Linked DNA regions of Homo sapiens: region 2 is linked to region 1. Evidence: fine-mapped expression QTL. A gene starts in region 1. The other region holds a variant in brackets. All regions are shown on one strand. Distances are from middle to middle.

Region 1 (4,381 bases):
GGAGCCACTGCACATCAACCTGGGTAATAGAGCAAGATCTCTCTCAAAAAAATAAAGAAAAGAAAATCTTTGAGTTTTGTTTGTTTTATGAAAGGGCAGACTTTCCCCACCAGGGCTGTGGGGATGGAGGTGATGGTGGCAGAGAGGTATGAGCTAGAGGGCAGAGCCTGGGTGAGGTCAGACTCCTAGGTTATAGACATGATCCTGTCTTTACTGAATCACTGAGTGATTTTGCAAATCCTGCCCCTCTGGGTCTCAGTTTCCCTATCTGAAAGGCATGGGCCTAGATCCATTTGCACCTCACAGTCCCAGTGACTGCCACAGTGGCTCAGTGGTCACCCCCTGATGTGTCTGCTCAAGGGAAGCTAAAGCCCTGGTCCACTCCCTTCTTCTCCCCCAGGGCTGGGTCCGTGAAGTGGGAGGAGCAGGTGCTGCTAGGAAGGGTCATAAAGAGGCCAGTCTTCTTGGCTCCTGAGCCAACTGCCTCATCCCTGCTCGCTGTCCCTGTGGCCCTCTGTGCCTTCCAAAGGGTCTCATGAAACCCAAGTGCCAATGGGAGGGAGTGGTTGAGCAAGGTTGAGCCTCTTTTGTACAAGATGCATTGACAAGCCTTGGGTGAGGGATGGGGAAGTTTCCTGCCTGGGCCTCCTTGGATTCAGGAGCCCTTGGCTTCTGCCTTTCCCAGCCATGACCCACAGCTTTCCTGGCTTCATCCCCAACGCCCAGTGCATGACTTCACTCCTCTGGGACAGTTTCCACAGGTGTAAAATGAGATGCACAAACATGTCTTCCCAGACAGTTGGAAAGAATTAAAAATTAGATGTTGGATGCAAAAATCCTTCATAATGCACACAGTAGGGCTCCATAAATGCTCCTTCTCTTCACACTCACAGCCACTCTTGGCCCCATATGGGTCAGCAGGCAGGGGGCAGAGGAGACACCTTCCTCCTGGGTCTGGAGAGCCCCTGGTTTGCCCTTTGTGGCCAGGCTCAAAGGGGAGAGAAGTTTGACAGGACCTGGGCAGGGGAAGGGGTGGACTGGAGCCTGGCCAGGCCTTTACCCAAGTCCATGCTTTGACTTAAACCCCTCCAACCTTTTTTCAAGCTCCAGAGGTGGGAGAGAGCAGAACCTTATTCTCATCTCTCCCCAAAGGCCTCCCACCGTGTCAACTGATAGTGAGCCAAACAGATGTATGGTTAATGTCTAAACTGGGACACTTGCGAGGGTGAAAAGGACACAATTTGTAATGTATATACTGATCCGCTAGTGTCTATCAGTCAGTCCCAGCAAACCAACGTGTGCCATTGCTCCAGCTCATCATTTCCCATCCTAGCCACAGGCTCACTGGACCCTCAGAACATTCTGAGGCAACAATGCATGGGCGGCTCGTGGCCCATTTTACAGATATGAAATTAGAACTTTCCAGAAGCCATACTGCTGCTGGACAGGAAACCAGTTACTAATCATCTAAGTCACAGATCACAGTGACACTGTGGCACTTGCCTGTCCCTTCTGCTCACCCAAACCTCCCCATTTTGCTTTCATCTTAAGGAAAGGAGGAGAGTTGAAGACTCTACTAGCCTAAAGGTCCATGAAGCCTGACTCTGTCCCTGGTGTCACTCATTAGCCCCGTGACTTTGAGTAAGTAACTTAACTTCCCTGTCCCTCAGCTTCCTCATCTGTAGAATAGGAGTAACGACACCTGTCTCTCCAGGTTGAGAAAATAGGACACCTAGTTCAGGACCTGGCACATTTTAGGTGCTCAATAAATACTGATAGATTGAATAATTGGACTAATGGTGGCGTGGGCAACCCACAGTCAGTGAATAAATGTTAACTGAGCACCTACTATGTGTCAGGCTCTTTGTGCTAGATGTTTTCTATGCTCCATCTTCCTGAATTGCTCACACTCCTGTAAGAGAGGAGAGATTCTTATCCCCTAAGGTCGCACAGCAAAGACGACGCAGGGGGGTGGGCTGTTAGTGTTCCTTGCCCAACTGTGGAAAGGGAGTCCCAGAGAGGGCAGGTCGCTTGCCCAAGGTCACGCAGAAAGCCGAGGGTTTCCGTCGCGAACCCCCCTCCCCACTCGCTCAGGGCTCTCCAATCCGCAGCTCTGCGTGCGGGGGCGCGCGCATCCCCCCGCCGTCCGTCCGTCAGCTGTCTGTCTGGGTGTCTATGCGGGCGCAGCAGTGCACCCTTCCCCAGCCTCGGGCGCTGCGCAGGGACAGACAAGGCATTCGCAGCGCCCTGCCCGCGCTCCACGCCCGCAGCCGCCAGACGGCAGCGCCTGCGTCCGTGCCCGCCCCAGCCGGTGCGCGGGAGCCGCGGGGGCAAAGGCGCAGTGGCCAGCGGACCATCTCTCGTGCCCTCGCTCTCTGCGCTCCGGGGCAGCTGAGCCCCGGCCACCCGCTCTCCAAGATGAAGAAGCTCCAGGGAGCTCACCTCCGCAAGGTAGGGCACGAGGGCGGGGGCGCTGGGGGTGCACCTGGAGGAGGGTTGGAGAGACCCGCCCCCAACGAGGCCCCTGGGGAAGGTCTGAGGATGCACCCAGACCAGCTTCGGGCTCTGGGGAAGGCCCGACTCAGCTGGATAACAGGGAGGGTCAGGGTCACGGTCTGCGCCCCCACCTCTGCCCCTGCCATCTGGGGTTCGGGATGTAGTATGAGGGGAGTCCTGGTTCACTGGGCCAGGCCTATGAACAGGTGTCTGCAGTCCCCGGAGGCGCGGGGTAGGGGCGGCCGGGGCCAGGCACCCACCTCTTCCCCAATTCCACCCTGCTGCTCCCCGCCAGGAGCTGATTGCCGGGTGTGGGGGGTATTGGAATACCTGAGCGTTGAGCTGGACTCATCTGAGGGGTGGGGAGTGGGAGGCGGTCATCCATACTGAAGCCGGCTCCCTGAGCCTGCGGGAAGACTCTCCTCTTTCCTGCCTGCTCCCTCCCCGCCCCCTTAGCTTGCCTGCTGAGACCCCAGGCTGCCCCTCAGCAGGGCTGAAGGGAGGCAAAGACAGGGAGGGGGCTATCGGAGGCAGGAGGATATGATCAATGAAGATGGAAGCTGGTATGGGAGAGTGGCTGTGGGCCCAGACCTCAGGCTCTCCCTACCTTGCCTTGTGGGATTGGACCTCTCAGCCAAGCTGTCAGGATATGGGGAGGGGGAATACTGGGGGACGTTTTCTGGCTTGTACCAGTCCTAACTAAGGAGTCAGATCTCCTGAATACTATTTCTGCCGCTGCCACTTGCCTGGTGACTTTGGACAAGTTCATTCTCTAACCTGAACCTCCTCTGGCTAAGCCCTAGCCTGGAGGCACCAAAACAGGCCCCACTGGGTGTGTGAGGTGTGGGGAAGAATGCTAAAGGGCTGGTAGATGTGAGAAGACTGTTCTCAGGGGCTGGTGTTATCAACCTCCCTACATACACACACATTCACACTCACACTCACTCACACACACACTCATTCATTCAAGTTCTCTGCTCTGGGGCAGCTGGGCTTGGAACCACTGTGGTGTGTCTTTTTTCTTTTTCTTGTTTTTTTTTTTTGAGACGGAGTCTCGCTCTGTCACCCAGGTTGGAGTGCAGTGGTGTGATCTCGGCTCACTGCAAGCTCTGCCTCCCGGGTTCACGCCATTCTCCTGCCTCAGCCTCCCGAGTAGCTGGGACTATAGGCGCCCGCCACCACGCCTGGCTAATGTTTTGTATTTTTAGTAGAGACGGGGTTTCACCGTGTTAGCCAGGATGGTCTTGATCTTCTGACCTCGTGATCCGCCCGCCTCGGCCTCCCAAAGTGCTGGGATTACAGGTGTGAGTCACTGCGCCCAGCTGGTATGTCTTTTTTATTCACTGACATGAGTGACTTCTTGAGACCATTTGTGAGTCTCTTGGGTCCTGTTTCCATTCTTTTCCACTCTCCTTCTCTTCCCTCTCTGCCCTCCCTCCCCACAAGAGGCCCTGTCCCTCTTGCTGGGTGCTGGGCTGGGGGGTTAGCAAGCTTTATCTCATTTAATCCTTTAACACTTCCAGGGGCTAGGTCTTAGTAGCCCCACTTTATAAATAAGGCAACTGAGGCACAGAGGGGTGAGACTCACTGCTTACCTGCTGGCAGGCTAGGCAACCTAGAGCCAACAGGGCAGAGGGTTGGTTCTAGGTTGCTACCTCCTCTCAGGGTCCTTTCCCTTTTCTCAAGCAGAATTGGGCGGGAATGAGAAAATGCCAGATTTCCGCAAAGGAGCAGCATTGCTCAGAGATGAACACTGGACTTAGAGTCAGGGGATCTAGGTCCAAGTCTTGCTGTGCCTTTAACTTGCTGTTTGACCTTGGGCTCATCCCTTCTTCCTGAAACTTGGTTTCCTAATCTGCACAATGATGAAGCTGGACCCCAGATT
Region 2 (4,381 bases), 28 kb after region 1:
ACATATTTTTAAAATGTGATCAAAGTGCTTAGCACAAAATGTGGCATGCAGGAACCCTCTAGATGGGATGCATCTCATTAGCCAGCTCTCCCTTGTACAGATAAGGAAACTGAGGCTCAGCTCCCACCTCCAACCAGCCTGGGGAGAAAGAGGCTGGGAGTTGGTGTGCCTGGAGCCAGGGACAGGCTAAACTGGAGGCCCAGGCTTGCCAGCACCATCTGTGTGCCCTGAGGACCCAGCCTCAGTGTCCCCATCTATAAAACAAGTGGGTTGAACAAGGACAGAGGGCTCTGCAGAGGTGCCTTGGTGGAGGGAGGTGAGGAAAAGGGAGCTCTCTGCTCCCACCCACTCCATGCAGCCTTCTGCTGGGGACCATGCCACGGGAGCTAGGGAGGGGAGCAGCACCCCTCTTCGGAGATGGATTGGGATTGGCTCTGCCTAGTAGGAAGGAAGTCTCAGTTCTCTTGCAGAATGAGTTTAAGGATTCAGAGCCCTGAAGGTTTTTCCAGTGAGCCAAATGCCCTGCCCAATCACTAGGAGTAGGGGGATACAGGGTGAGCGTGGGCACAGCAATAAAATCATCACAGTCCCAAGCCTGGCTTGACCTTGATTCTGCTGATCCGAGGTCAGGGTCTCAGAGAGCTTTGGGGCTTAGGGTGGTAGGACTTAGAGGCAGGGGAGGGGCCTATGGTCAATATTGATCTAGCTGAGTCAGGGGAGGACAGGGAAGTGGGAAGCCTGGGGTGGGGCTCCCTGATAACTGCATCTTCAGGCTGCCATTGTGACTGTGGAAACGGGGTGGGGACAATGCGGGGAGGGGGAAGGGATGCTCCATGCAAATTCCCAAACCTGGGCTTTTACTAAAACTACAGCTGCCTGGACCCCTGCCCAGAAGAATGGCTCTTATTCTGTGAGGGTGGGGCCCAAAACATCTGTGTGTTTAGCAAACTCCCTGGTGAATCTGCAGCAGCCAGCTCAGTTCTCACATATGGGGCCCACAGGTTCAGTGTCATTGTAATATGAGGAAACGAAGGCCCAGAGAGGGGATGTGACTCCTCCAAGGTCACTTTGGGAGAGGATGCTGACAGTCCTCCCTTTTCTCCTGGAAGGAAGGAGTCATCCCCCTCCAGCTCCCTCCACCTCCAGTTGAGGCCCTGGGTCTGGGAAGGAATGGCTGGGCCAGGGCGTCCTGAGGGAAGTGGCCTCTGAGACTTTGGTGGCCCTGGGTGGAGAAGGGAGGGCAGGGCTGGTCCCAGGAGGAAGGACAAGGAGAGGGCATTTCCACGGGACTGGACCTGCCCCACCCTGCCCTATGCACACCCCCCAGCACCTGCCAGGGGATGTTTCCTGAAAGATTTAGCACAACCCATGCCCTGAGAAGGCACCACATCATGGCAGATTCGGGGCTCACTCAGCCCTTAGACACCTCCGGCCCCCATGGCCTCCTCCCAAGCCTGTTCTGCTCACCCTGCCGCCACAGTTCTGGGCTCCCAGCCTTTGCTCTGGCCTCCACACTCTCCCTGCCTCCATCCCATCAAGCACCCCACGAAGTTTTATCCAGCCCAGTCACCATCTCTCCTTCTCCTTCCTCTGGGCTCCTGCACACTTTGCACCTCCAGATCCAGCCCCCATCCCAGCCTTCCTTGAGTTCTTGCTCTTTGCATGTCTCTCACTGTCTGGAATGGCATCAGAGATTCTTGGGGGACAGAAGTCATGAGACAGGTCTAGCTTATCACTGAGCCCTCCTTGGAGCCCAGCCCAGCCACAGCATGCCCCAGGGAAGCAGGTGTGGGAAGCAGGTGTGGGAAGCAGGTGTTCACAGCAGCTGAGAGCCTCAATCTCACCTCCCTCCCTCGTGCCCTGGGCCATCTTGGGTGGGTTCCTTTCCTCTGGGCACCTTCTTATTAACGGAATAAAGAGAATAGTAGTGCCCTCAGTGGAGGGGTATGCTGAAGATTGAGAGAGCACCTATAAAAGAGGTGGGGCGTGCCTGGCACTCAGTCAGTTCCCACTGTTAACCGTTGTTATTTCTGGGTGGGTGGAATACTCATGCCCACACAGCCTCCACTCCTCCTTCATTCCAGGGGCACATCTGCTAGGGGTCTTCTCTATGCAAGAATGACAGTATCTGCCACGTACATCCGGAGCACGGACAAGATGCTGTCCTGCCTTCAAGGAGCACACAGTTCTGCAGAAACTTGCTTAGGTGACTTCAAACCAGAGATCTGTGGTGAGGAAGGTGGAGCAGATTGTGGAAGCCCATGGAGGGACCTAGCCCAGGGACGGGGGAGGCTGGGGAGGGTGAGGGAACTTCCCAGAGAAGATGCTGGAGCCATGTCCTGAAGGGTGAGAAGGTGTCACAGTGCGCTCAGTGGGAAAATGCAAGGGAAATGGCCCTCTGCAGTGCCCTTTGGAGTATGGAGACTGTGGGTGTAGACAACCGAGAGAGAAGACAGTAGCTGGAAGGGGACAGAGTGTCAAAAGGGGAGGAGGTCCTAAGAATCCCAGTCACTCCTCGCTGGCTGTCCAGAGACCAGGGACAGGGCAGCACCGACCAGGGCAGGGGAGGCCCCTGGAGGGAACAGAGCACTGTGCTCTGAGTTAGAAGGCTGGGGTGAGCAC[T/C]GGTCAGAGTCTTGCAAGAAGTCTCTTTGCCTTTGAGTCTCATCATTTTCATCTTCAAAATAGGACTGTTGTAACTAGGACAAGAGGTGTTGTGAAAGCACTTTGTGAACTGTAGAGCATCATTCTCCTGTGAGATAATAATAGTGTTTTAAGTGGAGTCGGTACTTTTTGAGAGTTAAAGGATATCTCACAGGGCATGGTAGACGTACTAGGGCCAAGGACTGCCTGAAACCTGCTCCTGTGCTGCCACCTGCTGGTGAAGGGACACAATGACCACCCAAGCCCTCAAAGCTTTCTGCAGGGGCCAGGCAGGAGCCACTGGGGCAAGTGAAGGCAGGGCTGGGAGGACGCCTGCCACTAAACCCTTGAGGACATCGGTGATGTCCGCAATAATAAAAAACTCTTCATTTTTTACTATTGGCATCTAATTCAAATTTAAAACATCATCCGCAAAGGTGGCAAATGGAAGCCCCCAAGCCTCTCTTGCTTTTCTCAGCCTTGGCCTGTGTTCTTACTGTGAAGGTCCTCCCCTGTGTGCAAGGGGCACACTCCCTATAGACACTGCCCCTGGCCATTCCACACACCAGCAGTGAGGATAGACCCGGAAGGCAGCTGGTGCAGGGATTCTGGAGTGCCAGGCACCCGGAGTATGGTCTAGAGGGAACTGTGGGCTCCGATGGGCACCTTTCCTTGGCCCCGTGGCATCCAGGCCTCTGGGCAATGGATGGGTGACCAGCTTGTCTGGTTGGCCTGGTGCTGTCCTGTTTTGAGCACTGAAAATCTCACACAGGTATCTGGGAAGGTTGGCCACTCTACCGTGGCCTGAAGGTGGCCAAAGCCTCTGCATCACCACTTTGGCTCTGCCCTGCCAGAAGCCAGCAGCTCGGGCTCCAAGGACCAAAGTGTCCCAGGCACTAGGTCCAGACATATGTTTATGGGTAAAGAGACCCTTCCTCCCCTTCCCCATTCTTTAAAGCACTCTCTGGCATGGTGAGTCCTGAGCACTCATCTGTGAGGCTGGGCTGAGGGAAGAGAATGGGTGGGGGACTTGTGGAATAACCTCCACATTGTACAGGGAAACTGAGGCCCAGAGGAGAAGAACCTTGCCCCAGGGCCCAAGAGAGGCTTTAGCTCTTGGCTGCTCAGGCAACCCATAGCCACCCCTTTGCTCTTGTTGAGGGTACCCCCATGTGCCTGGGAGAAAGCTGACCCCATCCCTGGCTCTACAGGTGGGGCATGTGGTCCAGGCATAATCCCACAGTGACTGGCTCAGCCTTGAGCATGTGACCACAGTTGGTCCAATCAGAATGAAGACCAGGACTTTTATTTTGCCATGGGGCAGATCTGGAACTGGAAACTAACAAAAACCTCCCAGCTCAGGGGCTTGACCAAGACAGGGACACACAGAGTGCACAGAAGTTTGTAGCTATTTATTGCACTGAAAACACCAAGAATAAAACAAACGCCCCTTCTTCCCATCCCACCCGCCCCCCCCAATAGCAGAAAGTTTGAGCAGTGTTCATTCAAGTTCACAGCCACATATTTTTAAAAAAGAAAAGAAAAAAAAAAAGAACTAAAACAAAACCCCAAACAAATAGTAACAAAGAAACCAGCACGGGGAGTCTGGCAAACTCATCCCCCAAAAGGGTCTCCCTTTGAAGGGAGACAGGAGGCCTTGGGTCAGGATTCGCACCATGGTGGGCACAAACCCAGGAGAACACTTTCCTGTAAACGTGTTTTCATGCTGGAGCCAAGGTTT

Alleles and levels. Positions count from the first base shown, and alleles are read on the strand shown. Sizes are in standard deviations (SD) of each study's normalised expression.
For the expression in subcutaneous fat of the gene that starts at base 2,153 in region 1, C is the high allele of the variant in region 2 and T is the other (moderate effect, 0.49 SD a copy in GTEx).

Evidence for each region.
Region 2: its variant is fine-mapped to the expression of SLC6A7 in subcutaneous fat (GTEx, PIP 0.94).

What each region holds. Positions count from the first base shown.
Region 1 is chr5:150,187,910-150,192,290 of GRCh38, forward strand. It overlaps SLC6A7 (solute carrier family 6 member 7), which reads left to right and starts at 2,153. Exons shown (of 14, transcript NM_014228.5): 1 at 2,153-2,451. The coding sequence starts at 2,419.
Region 2 is chr5:150,215,460-150,219,840 of GRCh38, forward strand. It overlaps CAMK2A (calcium/calmodulin dependent protein kinase II alpha), which reads right to left. Exons shown (of 19, transcript NM_015981.4): 19 at 4,032-4,381. Among named protein-coding and RNA genes, the nearest start is that of SLC6A7, 28 kb to the left of the region's middle. The variant T/C (reference allele first, on the strand shown) is at 2,623.